Linked DNA regions of Homo sapiens. The protein of the gene in region 1 purifies or fractionates together with the protein of each later gene. This does not show direct contact. Each region holds a gene or a part of one and is shown on either strand. Other genes may lie near its edges.

What was found.
Region 2: the proteins of WDR91 (region 1) and CEP135 purify together in Homo sapiens (co-immunoprecipitation; one large-scale study listed by IntAct). This does not show direct contact.
Region 3: the proteins of WDR91 (region 1) and RAB8A purify together in Homo sapiens (co-immunoprecipitation; 2 studies listed by IntAct). This does not show direct contact.

The regions. Positions count from the first base shown.
Region 1 is NC_000007.14:135,183,339-135,187,676, reverse strand, and holds the end of WDR91 (WD repeat-containing protein 91), read left to right. Parts: intron 1-507; coding exon 508-705; intron 706-1,361; coding exon 1,362-1,526; 3' UTR 1,527-3,838; downstream 3,839-4,338.
Region 2 is NC_000004.12:55,951,916-55,955,565, forward strand, and holds part of CEP135 (centrosomal protein of 135 kDa), read left to right. Parts: intron 1-170; 5' UTR 171-215; coding exon 216-328; intron 329-475; exon of another isoform or gene 476-556; intron 557-1,169; coding exon 1,170-1,360; intron 1,361-2,300; coding exon 2,301-2,468; intron 2,469-3,650. UniProt on the Homo sapiens protein: Centrosomal microtubule-binding protein involved in centriole biogenesis. Acts as a scaffolding protein during early centriole biogenesis.
Region 3 is NC_000019.10:16,128,889-16,131,961, reverse strand, and holds part of RAB8A (ras-related protein Rab-8A), read right to left. Parts: intron 2,409-3,073; coding exon 2,358-2,408; intron 1-2,357. UniProt on the Homo sapiens protein: The small GTPases Rab are key regulators of intracellular membrane trafficking, from the formation of transport vesicles to their fusion with membranes.

The DNA.
Region 1 (4,338 bases):
TGGCATCGCCCAGTGTTCAATTGATTATATGCCTGAAACACTGGAAATATATGTGGACTTTGTCCTCTGTACCTTGTTCCTAGGATAGAAAAATCTAGTTGGGGTCTAACTCTGATAATAATAATAATAATATGTCACTTGAAGCATTCCTCCTGCTTGAGAGACCAGGAATCCAGGCAAAGCCACTTGCTGTCCCTTTTCCTCTCCTAGGGTCAGGCCAGAGAGAAAGAGAAGGGTTGGACTTTAATGTGAGGTTGCTGCCTCTTTTTCTAGATTTTCTTCCCTAAAAAATGCTTAAATCATGTTGACCAGAGATAGGACCTGTAGACCTCTCACCCACTTTTCTGCCTCTGGCACTTGAAAGGCTTTTCAAGGATGTCAGCACTGTGGCTGGGGGAGGCGGGTCGCCCTCGCCAGCCTCTGCTGTGGGGTGGGTCCTGGCTCTTCCTTGAGGCCTGCATTGGCCAGCTCCGCTGCGAGCACCCTGCTTGTGCCCTGTGACTGCAGTTCATCCAGTGGAACATCCACAAGAGTGGCCTCAAGGTATCCGAGTACAGCCTCCCCTCAGATGCCACGGGCCCCTTTGTGCTGTCTGGATACAGCGGCTACAAGCAGGTTCAAGTCCCCAGGGGCCGACTCTTCGCTTTTGACTCGGAGGGAAATTACATGCTGACATGTTCTGCCACAGGCGGCGTCATCTACAAGGTAACTGATGGTTGGGGGTGGGAGGTAGTGGTATTGTGGTGGGCAGGGGTTCCTCCCTGGAGGTCTGGGCCATGGCTACTGAGCGAGGCCCTCTACCCCGAGCTGCATGGCTGTGGAGATGCCTTTGACAAAGGATCGCTGGCTAGCTAGTGCTGGGGTTCAGAGGAGAGCCATGTTTCTGCACTAACTGAAGGCTCCCCTGTGGCCAGCACTGTTCTGGGTGTGGCAGGCTGGCCCCCCGGCAGGAGAGAGCTGCCCGAGGCCCTGCTCTCCTGCAGCTTGCATTCCCCAGTATGGGACATGAACCTTCAACAAATAAGCAGATTCATGAGCACCTGCCAGGTAGTGAGAAGTGATGCTGTAGTGAGAACAACCAGTGTGCGTGCAAGAGGCACCAGCCCACAGCAAGTTCAAGGCAGCTGAGAAAATGCCTTTTTTTAAGGAGCCGCTCAGGGACTTGTTTTCCACTTCAGATGGACCAGCTGTAGTTGGGAAAGTGCAAGCATTTCCTGGTTCAAAAAGTTAAACAGACTTTCTGGAAAGGTGGGCATGTGTGTCTGGCCTCAGGCACATCCTCAGGTAGGCCACTGAAAGTGGATCAAGTGTGTGTAACTGGTGTTTGCTGACACCTCCTCCTCTTTCCTGTCCTCTTGCAGCTGGGTGGCGATGAGAAGGTTCTGGAGAGCTGCTTGAGCCTAGGTGGCCACCGAGCCCCTGTGGTCACCGTGGACTGGAGCACTGCCATGGACTGTGGGACCTGCCTCACCGCCTCCATGGATGGCAAGATCAAGCTGACCACCCTCCTGGCCCATAAAGCCTGATGACTTGCCCCAAGGGCCACCCGAGGAAGCAGTATTATCTGCGGTGGGGGGAGGAGATATAGGACAGGAAAACCACGTGCTCCACTCCAGCTCCCTGCCAGTGCAGTGACTCTGCAGGGAAAGACTGGCAAGGAGGCTCAGGTGCTTCCATCTGTGGTGACTGGAATGGGACCCACGTGGAGTAGGTGACATATGCTTCCCAGAGACTGGTATTGTGGCTGTGCCAGGAGTACATGTGAGACTATGGGAGGAAAGCTCCGGAAGAAGGAGAAACATTGCAGTGGCTACTGTGTTGGCCCAGTAGAAATTGACAGTATTTTGTATATATGTGCCCATTTATCTTTTTCTTTTTTAAAAAAAGAGAATACTCTTGTGGTCCCCTGATGTCTCTTTCTAGGATGTGTGTCACTTTGCTTCAGTGACAGCCCTCCCACCCAGCCTGGCTCTGCTGGCCCTGAACTGAACCTCTCCAGGCTCTCCTGTTGCTTTGCCATGGAGCCAGGTCAGCTCTCTGTCTGTTCTGCTGGGTAACAAGGTTTGGCAGTTCCTGTTTCTCTGGGCTTAAGTCAAGGCCACAGAATTCTTTTTCTTCCCTGAAAGCTGGCAGCTTTTGTTACAGAAGATTCTCAGGATGAAGGCAGGGGCTGAGGCCTCTGCTACTGGCTGCCCCTTTCCATCCAGTGGCTGCTGTTTCCCAAGACAGGCTAAGCGTTTCTTATCTGAAATGCTTGGGACAGGAGTGTTACAGATTTTGGATTTTTTCAGACTTTGGAATATTTGCATATATACATAATGAGGTATCTTGGTAGGTCTCATGTCTAAACATGAAATTCATTCATGTTTTATATATACCTTATACATGTAGCCTGAAGGTAACTCTATACAGTATTTTAAATAATTTTGTACATGAAACAAAGTATTGATTGTGGTCAGGTGTGGTATTTTCCACTTGTGGTGTCATGTTGGTGCTCACAGTTTTGGGGCTGGGCACGGTGGCTCACGTCTGTAATCCCAGCACTTTGGGAGGCCAAGGTGGGTGGATCACTTAAGGTCAGGAGCTTGAGACCAGCCTGGCCAACATGGTGAAACCCCATCTCTACTAAAAATACCAAAATTAGCCAGGCATGGTGGCAGGTGCCTATAATCCCAGCTACTCTGGAGGCTGGGGCAGGAGAATCACTTGAGCCCAGGAGGCGGAGGTTGCAGTGAGCCGAGATCACGCCACTGGGAGAACCCAACTCAAAAAAAAAAAAAGTTTTGGGTTATGGAGCATTTTTGATTTTGGATCTTTGGGTTAAGGACGCTCAACCTGTACCTTTTTCATTTGGTGGCTCCTCTCATTCCTCCAACTGAACATCTTTGTGGAAAGATGATGGCTGCCTGCACCCACTGCTGGCGAATGGTGAGAAGGTAGAGCAAGGGGGCCAAGTTGCTGCTGGTGGGCACCTGGGGTTCAGGCCGGCCCAACTGTGGCTGAGCCGATCTGTAGCTGAGCTGAGTGTCAACCAGCTGTGTCCACACCCTGCCTGAGGCCTGCCCTCTCCTCCCTGGCTGGGGTGGGACCTTGAAGAGGCATATCTTCCCACTAGGTGAGGAGGAACAAGAGCCTCACTCCCCTTCTCCCTCTTGCCTTTCACAGCTGAGGCAGAGCTTATGGGAGGAGTCACTATGGGAGTGATGGACCTGGGCTTTGGTCTCCAGTGTTTGGCAGGGGCGACCTTATCACTGAGCTGGGGAAGGCAGCTGCCATGAGTCATTTTAAGTCTCTGAGCTCCAGCCCAGTTCTAGGGGCACAAGGCTGGAGTAGGGATACTCCTAGTTACCTGCTTGAGGAAAAGCACGAAGAAATTGGTACCAAAGTCTTGGCTTTGTTCTGGGAGTTGAGGGAAAAGTAGGGAGGTATTTAAGTGGCTTGATTATGAGAAAACACCAGAGACAGTAGTAAATAGTTATTTACCGATTTTTACCCATTTCTACCCTGGTAATCCTCCCTGCAAATGAAGAAAACCAAGACTTCTTTATTTATTATCTTTCCCCATCTGTATTGAAACAGTGATCTTACTTATCTCACCCAGTGATTCTGTAGGACATTTAAAAAGTGGTCATGGGTTTCATTGGAGTGAGAATGGTATTAACGTTTCCTCTTGTCATCTCAAAGTTTTCTCTCCCCTTAATACCATCTCTACAGCTTGCTGAGATGCTTTAAGGATCACAGAGACACAAAGAAAATTTGAACCCTACGCTTCTCCCATCCCACTTCTTACTCCATCCCGGGTGAGCGCTCGTCCTCAAATAAAGCATGTTGGAACTTCCGCTTATCTCTCCTTCCATAGACCTGCTTGGCGTCTGCTTAAGAACCCAAGCAAGACTCTTCCATTCTCTTGGTTGAGGGTGGCATAGAAGAAAACCTCTTTCCCAGTCCCAGCCTCAGTTCCCAGCCCAGGTGTGGACCCTCAGCTCTGGGGAGGGCTGCACCGAGAGCCTTGCAGGTGCACTTCCCCATTTCCTCCCTCTCTTCAGATACCTGCCGGTATTTGCCTCTTCTGCTCCATGGCCTCAGGCCTTGGCTGTGTTCTGCGAGTTGAGGGAAGCATTTGAATGGGGAGGGCCTCATAGCCAGTCCCCATTTAAATGCTTTAGGAGTTCAATGTAATCTTTTGAAGTATGTATACATTGTGGAATACAGACAATGTAGAATGATTAAATCTAGCTAACTGACACGTGCATTACCTCACATGATAAACAGCAGTTTAGCTGTCAGTTAAAAAAAATCCCCCAAACCCCCAAATGCTTTGGGTGCTGACTCTAATCT
Region 2 (3,650 bases), on another chromosome or scaffold:
AGTAACAGGAATATCATAAGCATTGGCTTTAAATCTGAATTTTCCAGAAGGCTACCTACCTGAAGAAAAACAAAAAATAATTGCTTCATATTAAAATAATTTTTTCTTCTTATTGTGAAACAACAATCATAGCTATAATAAGATAATGATGTTTCATTCTTTTCTCTCAGGACTTTAATTTTTGGAAGTGAATAAAACTTGTTTTAGAAGACGAGATGACTACAGCTGTAGAGAGAAAGTATATTAATATTAGGAAAAGGCTGGATCAGCTGGGATACCGCCAGACTCTGACAGTGGAGTGTTTACCTTTGGTAGAAAAACTTTTCAGGTAAAGACAAAAATACAGTTTTCAACCTTTATGATCCCTAACCACTTACCTCATTTCTGATTGAACTTCATGCTTTGGTAAAGAAAAGGGTAGCTTTCCGGAAAGGCTTTCAATCATGAAGCTTATCTGTTTTTTCCCTGTCCTCAATCCAGGCCTTCCACACGGCAGAACTCTAAAGGCCACCACTCACGCTGTACTGTTCAAAGTCAACATTTCTGGGGGTTTTCTCTGTGAATGGAATTACAGTTTTTTGGGTTTCTGATATAATTGAGAGACACTTTTCCCTTAAGTTCTTTTTTTTTCCCCCCCTTAAGTTCTATGTCTGCTTCACTGGTCTTCAAATACAGTCATGGATAGTTTCATGACAGGGATACGTTCTGAGAAACATGTCATCATTAGGTGATTTTTTCGTTGTACCAACATCATAGGGTGTGCTTACACAAACCTAGATGGTGTCGCCTACCACAAACCTAGGCTATATGGTCTGTATCCTATGGCTCCTAGGCTACAAACCTGTATAGCATGTTACTATACTGAATACTGTAGGTAATTGTTAACACAGTGGTGCCTATTTGTATATCTGAACATATCTAAACATAGAAAAGGTATTGTGTTGTGCTACAGTGTTACAATGGCCAGATCTCATGAGGCAATAGGAATTTTTCAGCTGCCCCCATTATAAATCTTACAGGACTACTCTCCTTCCTATATGTGGTCTGTCGTTGACCAAAATGTCATCATGTGGTGCATGACTGTATTTTAAGCCTCTTTAGAAATATGTTTTTAGTTATTAGAAAGTTAATGAAATATTTCCTGGTATTTAAATTTTCTGTTCTTTTAGCGACTTAGTTCATACAACTGAGAGCCTTCGGCAATCAAAATTATCTGCTGTGAAAGCTGAAAAAGAAAGTGCCAATTTTGATTTTGTTTTGGAACCCTATAAACTTGAAAATGCAAGATTGAGTAGAGAAAATAATGAATTATACCTAGAGTTAATGAAACTGAGAGAACATTCAGACCAACACGTTAAAGGTAAGTGAAAATTTGATAATTTTTAAAATGCAATGTCTTTGTCCTTTTTATTTTAGAAGGAAAAGCTAACGTCTAATTTTAAAACTATTGATTAGAAAATATAGTAGTCCTACAGCTGGATGGTGTGTGCCTATAGTCCCAGCTACTCGGGAGTTTAAGGTGGGAGGATTGCTTGAGCCCAGGAGTTTGAGACCAGCCTAGGCAACATAGTGAGAACTTGTTTCAAAAAAAAAGAAAAGAAAAGAAAATATGGTACTCCTTCTGCTAATAGCCCCTGAAATACTATAGGGTATGTTGAAGAGTTCCTGAGAAGGAAAATAAATGTGCATTATATAGCTATGATAATCACTATATGTGGATTAAATTTTTAGAATTAAAAATTTAATTAAAATTTTAGAATTAAAATTGCCATAGGGAATATTAAATGCTGGATTTGAAGAAATGTTCTTGAAACAACTTTTGTTTTTCCCTTACTGAAAATAAAAGTAGTAAATAAGGTGAAAACCATGTATCATGCTGACTGTTTTATAGTCAGTCTTTGAGCTGTCAAGTAGAATAGGATGATTTCAAAGGTACTAGGGAAAAGATAATTATATGGTTATCTTTGTATGAATTATTCTTATATTCAGTAGAAAACTTTATCTAATCCATGGTATGAATTCATAATCCTTTAGCTTCAGACCCAATTTACTGGATCAAAAGCTATGATGTACGTTAGGCTAATACAGTAGCTGAAAAATGAAGATTCTCTTTTGTGCTTAGTGAGTTATTTGCAGTTTTGTTAATAATAGTAGAAGAAGGAATAAGTGTCAACTAAAGCATGCATAAGAAGCAGGTGGAGACTTTTAAATTGATATGACTTTTTGTATTTTGTGAAATGGAAAAACTTCATTGGATTTCTTGATCTTTAAAACGGTCTTTGAATCTTTTTCATTTTAAGAGTTGAAAACTTCATTGAAGAAATGTGCACGTGAAACAGCTGATCTGAAATTTCTGAATAACCAATATGCTCATAAACTCAAACTGTTGGAGAAAGAGAGCAAAGCTAAGAATGAAAGAATTCAACAACTTCAAGAAAAGAATTTGCATGCTGTAGTACAAACTCCAGGTAAATCGATTCCTTCTCGAGACAAATTATACACATTTAATCTTTTAACGATATTAACACCATTGACTAAAATAGGACTTTGGATTGGATTTTCATGCTTAGACTTTAGTGTTTGAAAATATATATTGAATAGACCGTAAACTTCTTGATTTATTTCTAATGATCCGGGTAGTAATTTATACGTGTGCTTAGAAATGTATGTAGTATTAGTTACTTAGATACTAGTCTAACTTTAATGCCCAGAGCTTTCTCTAATCAATATTTTAAATTCTTTTTTCTATTATTATTATCATTATTATTTTAGTTGTAAAAGTAATCCATACTCATTAAAGAATTTGGAAATTATGTACTTTCTTAGTTTATTTTACTATTTTTAGCATTATGCTTAGTAGTTATAGAGCAAGAAAAGGAAATGATGGGTCCAGGTGCAGTGGCTCACACCTGTAATCCCACCACTTTGGGAGGCTGAAGTGGGCAGATCATTTGAGGCCGCTTCAAGACCTGTGTGGGAACGTGATGAAACCCCACCTCTACCAAAAATACAAAAATTAGCTGGGCATGGTGGCGCAAGCCTATAGTTCCAGCTACTTGGGAGGCTGAGGTGGGAGGATTGCTTGAGCCTGGGAGGCGGAGGTTGCAGTGAGCTGAGATTGCACCACTGCACTCCAGCTTGGGTGATAGAGTGAGACCCTGTCTCAAAAAAAAAAAAAGAAATGATGGGCCACATCCAGAGTTGGTGATTGTTCAGCAGGTATGGGTTGGTGGTAGAATCTACAATATTAGTGACAAAATCATTAAGATAGCTGAACCATGGGATCAAGATTATGAAATTAAGTGAGTAACAGGGGGCTGCTGGATTATGAGGCTAGGTCAAGACAGATTAAAGAGCATGATGAGTACCAAAAGTAATTTGTTTGCTATGAAGATTGCAGTCAGAGTGGAATTTTGGAGTTGAAGAACTAGAAGCCAGCAGAGTTCTGAGTGATGACAAAGGCCAAAGTGTATCATCTTATTGTGTGCCTGAAGTTGAGGGGAGAGGAGACTCCTGAGAGTGGACAGATTAGAACTGTGAAGCCAGGTGGGGGAAGACTCAGTGGAGCGTGAGATAGTTTAGTAAATGAGATAGATGGACATGGGGACTGTGAGCAAAAGGCAGAAGAGATAGAGAAAAGTGGGAGTCAA
Region 3 (3,073 bases), on another chromosome or scaffold:
ATCAGCCATCAAACCATCCATCCATCATCTGCCAGTCCGTCCAGCTGTCCCCTTCCAACCATCCAACCAACCAACCAACCAACCAACCAACCAACCAACCAACCAACCATCCATCTATACCCTTTCAACCATCCATCCATCCACTCACCCATTCCCTTCCATCCGTCTATCCACCTGCTTCCAACCAACAAACCAATCAACCAACCATCCATCCCTTCCAACCAAGAACCATCCACTCATCCATCCCTTTCCAACCATCCATCTTCTTCCAACCATCCATCCCCTTCCAACCAACCAACCAACCATCCATCCCCTTCTAACCACCTCATCCAACCAACCATCCATCCATCCCTTTCCAACCATCCATCCACCCATCCATCTCCTTCCCCCCATCCACCCTCTTCCAACTAACCATCTCCTTCTAACCACCCCTTCTGACCAATCAACCATCCATCCATCCCCTTCCAAGCAACCACCTCCTTCCAACCAACCATTCATCCATCCCCTTCCAACCAACCAACAAACCAATCATCTATCTATCCAACCATCTCCTTCCAACAAATCAACCATCGATTTATTCCCTTTCAACCAACCATCCATCCATTATCTTCTACCCATCCATCCAATTCTCTTACAACTGATAATTCGTTTTTCAGAAACAGATCTATTTTCCATCTGCTATATACCACCCCTTCCAACCACTCTCTCACTTATCTGCCCACCCCATCATACCCTTCCCAGCACTTTGGGAGGCTGAGGCAGAAGAACTGCTTGAGCCCAGGAGTTTGAGTCCAGCCTGGGTAACAAGTGAGATCCTGCCTCTTAAAAAAGAAAAAATGGCCAGGCGGGGTGGCCCACACCTGTAATCCCAACACTTTGGGAGGCCGAGGCAGGTGGATCACCTGAGGTCAGGAGTTCAAGACCAGCCTGACCAACATGGTGAAGCCTCGTCTCTACTAAAAATACAAAAATTAGCTGGGCGTGGTGACATGTGCCTGTAATCCCAAGTACTCGGGAGGTTGAGTCAGAAGAACCGCTTGAACCTGGGAGGCAGAGGTTGCAGTGAGCAGGGATTGCACCATTGCACTCTAGCCTGGGCAACAGAGCGAGACTCCTTCTCAAAAAAAAAGAAAAAGAAAAAAAATTAGCCAGGCATGGTGGTGTGTGCTTATAGCCCCAGCTACTTGGGAGGCGGAGGTGGGAGGATTGCTTGAGCCCAGGAGTTGAAGGCTGCAGTGAGCTGTGATGGTGCCACTGCACTCCAGCCTAGGTGGCAAAGTGAGACTCTAAAAAAAAAATCTCTTTTTTAACTAATAAGAAAACTAAAAGAAAAAAGAATCAGACCTTGACCATTATACTGAAGAAAAAAAATTGCAAGAAAATCCCAAATTATTGTTGGTCAGTGCACTGGTTTCCATGAACTGTTTCCCATTTTAATTTAATGGCCAAAGAGCTGCTATTAAATCAATCACATGCCTCACTGTTCAACACACCGCATCTTAGAATTACAAAACAGATTTGCTTACATCAGATGTAAAACTTGAACGGCATTTTGTATTTTATGTGCATTCTCAAGTGACCAGACTTAACCCACAAATAGAGCGCCGTGTGCTCCTCGATTGGACAACCAATGTAACATGGCCGGGAAAGGGCAGTTGCTGGAACCAGGGCGAGGGAGGAAGGGTCACTACGGTGTTTAGGCACTAAATGCCCCCAAAGTACAGGGAAGTGTTTGATTCCATCAAGAAAGCACCATTGATACTGAGCGCAGCGGACTAGGAAATCGCTAACGTGGTAAAAAAAAAAAAGCAAGAAACGAATGAGAGGGTAGATGGGTAGGGATTCATGCAGACTTCCCTGGAGGCCTCAGAGAACCCTGGGACACAATGAAGGTTGCAGAGCTGTCACAACTTGTAGCATCTGGGGCTGGGGTGGAGCGGGGGCAGGTTCTTGATCTGCCATGCTTGTCAAGACGATGAGCCAGCAGTTATCAGACACCAGCCCTGGCCCTGCCCAAGCGACCTAGGAAGCTTTTCTCCGAGCCATGGCTCTCTGTCCTTGCACACCATGTTGTCTTTCTGGCCCTTGAGTGGAATGGAAAAGGCCGTGTGCTCCCTGCTAGCCTGGGGATTCACCGGGCACGGCCTTGTCTGCTTGGGCAGCGTCCCCAGGCTGGCACTGCCTGATGCTGATGCCCCAGCCACACCTGCAAACTCTTCCCCCTTTCCCAGCAATGTCCCATGGGGTCTGGCTGGGCCCTAAAAAGCAGGATCTAGGGCACGTCATATCACTGCTGCTAACGACGATGGCTGGATCCCAGAGATCCACCCGGGGATCTCGGAAGGACACACACTCACCAATTTTTTGTCCATTTTTGCTTTGATATCTCTGGCGAGAGTGAAAAATGCCTGTGGAATAAGCACATTGTGAGTCCTTGGGATGGCAGGACCCTGAGTCCTCAGCCGCCCGTGTACAGCGGGTGTGGTGAGACAGCTTCCCAGGCGTGGGCCTCCCATTTGGCCCTTTGATGCCCGCCTCTGGCAGTGGGTTCATCTGGCCTGTCCGGCCCCAGCTCATCCTTCCCCGGCTCCCTCTGCCTCCCACCCACCCTTACTCTCTGACATCAACTCTCACTTCCGCAGAGCACCTTAGCATTGACGGGACTTTACGCATGTGCCACCTCCCCTAAGCCCTGTGAGATGGGGCGACACTCAGTTGGCCAGAGAGGAAACTGAGGCTCAGAGAGGCCAAGTGACTTGTCCAAAGGAACCCAGCAGTTAACCGACCAATCCAGAAGGATCTAGGAGTGCCCAGTTCTTTGTCTCTGACTCCTAGGTTCTGTCAGCTCTGGCCTCCCTTCTGATGGTCAGGGAAAAAGGCAAGCAGCTCTGTGGCCAAACAAGCTTCACTCGGAGTCCTTGCCTGGCAGGGCTGGGAGCGGGAGCAGGTTCATCTCCCAGCACAGCCAAGGGTTGAGCTGCTGTCACAGCCTTGAGGAGGGGACATACAGAGATGGCGGGAGGCGTGATCCCAACATACATCCCCATGATGTGGGAGGTTCTGGAGAGGAGAG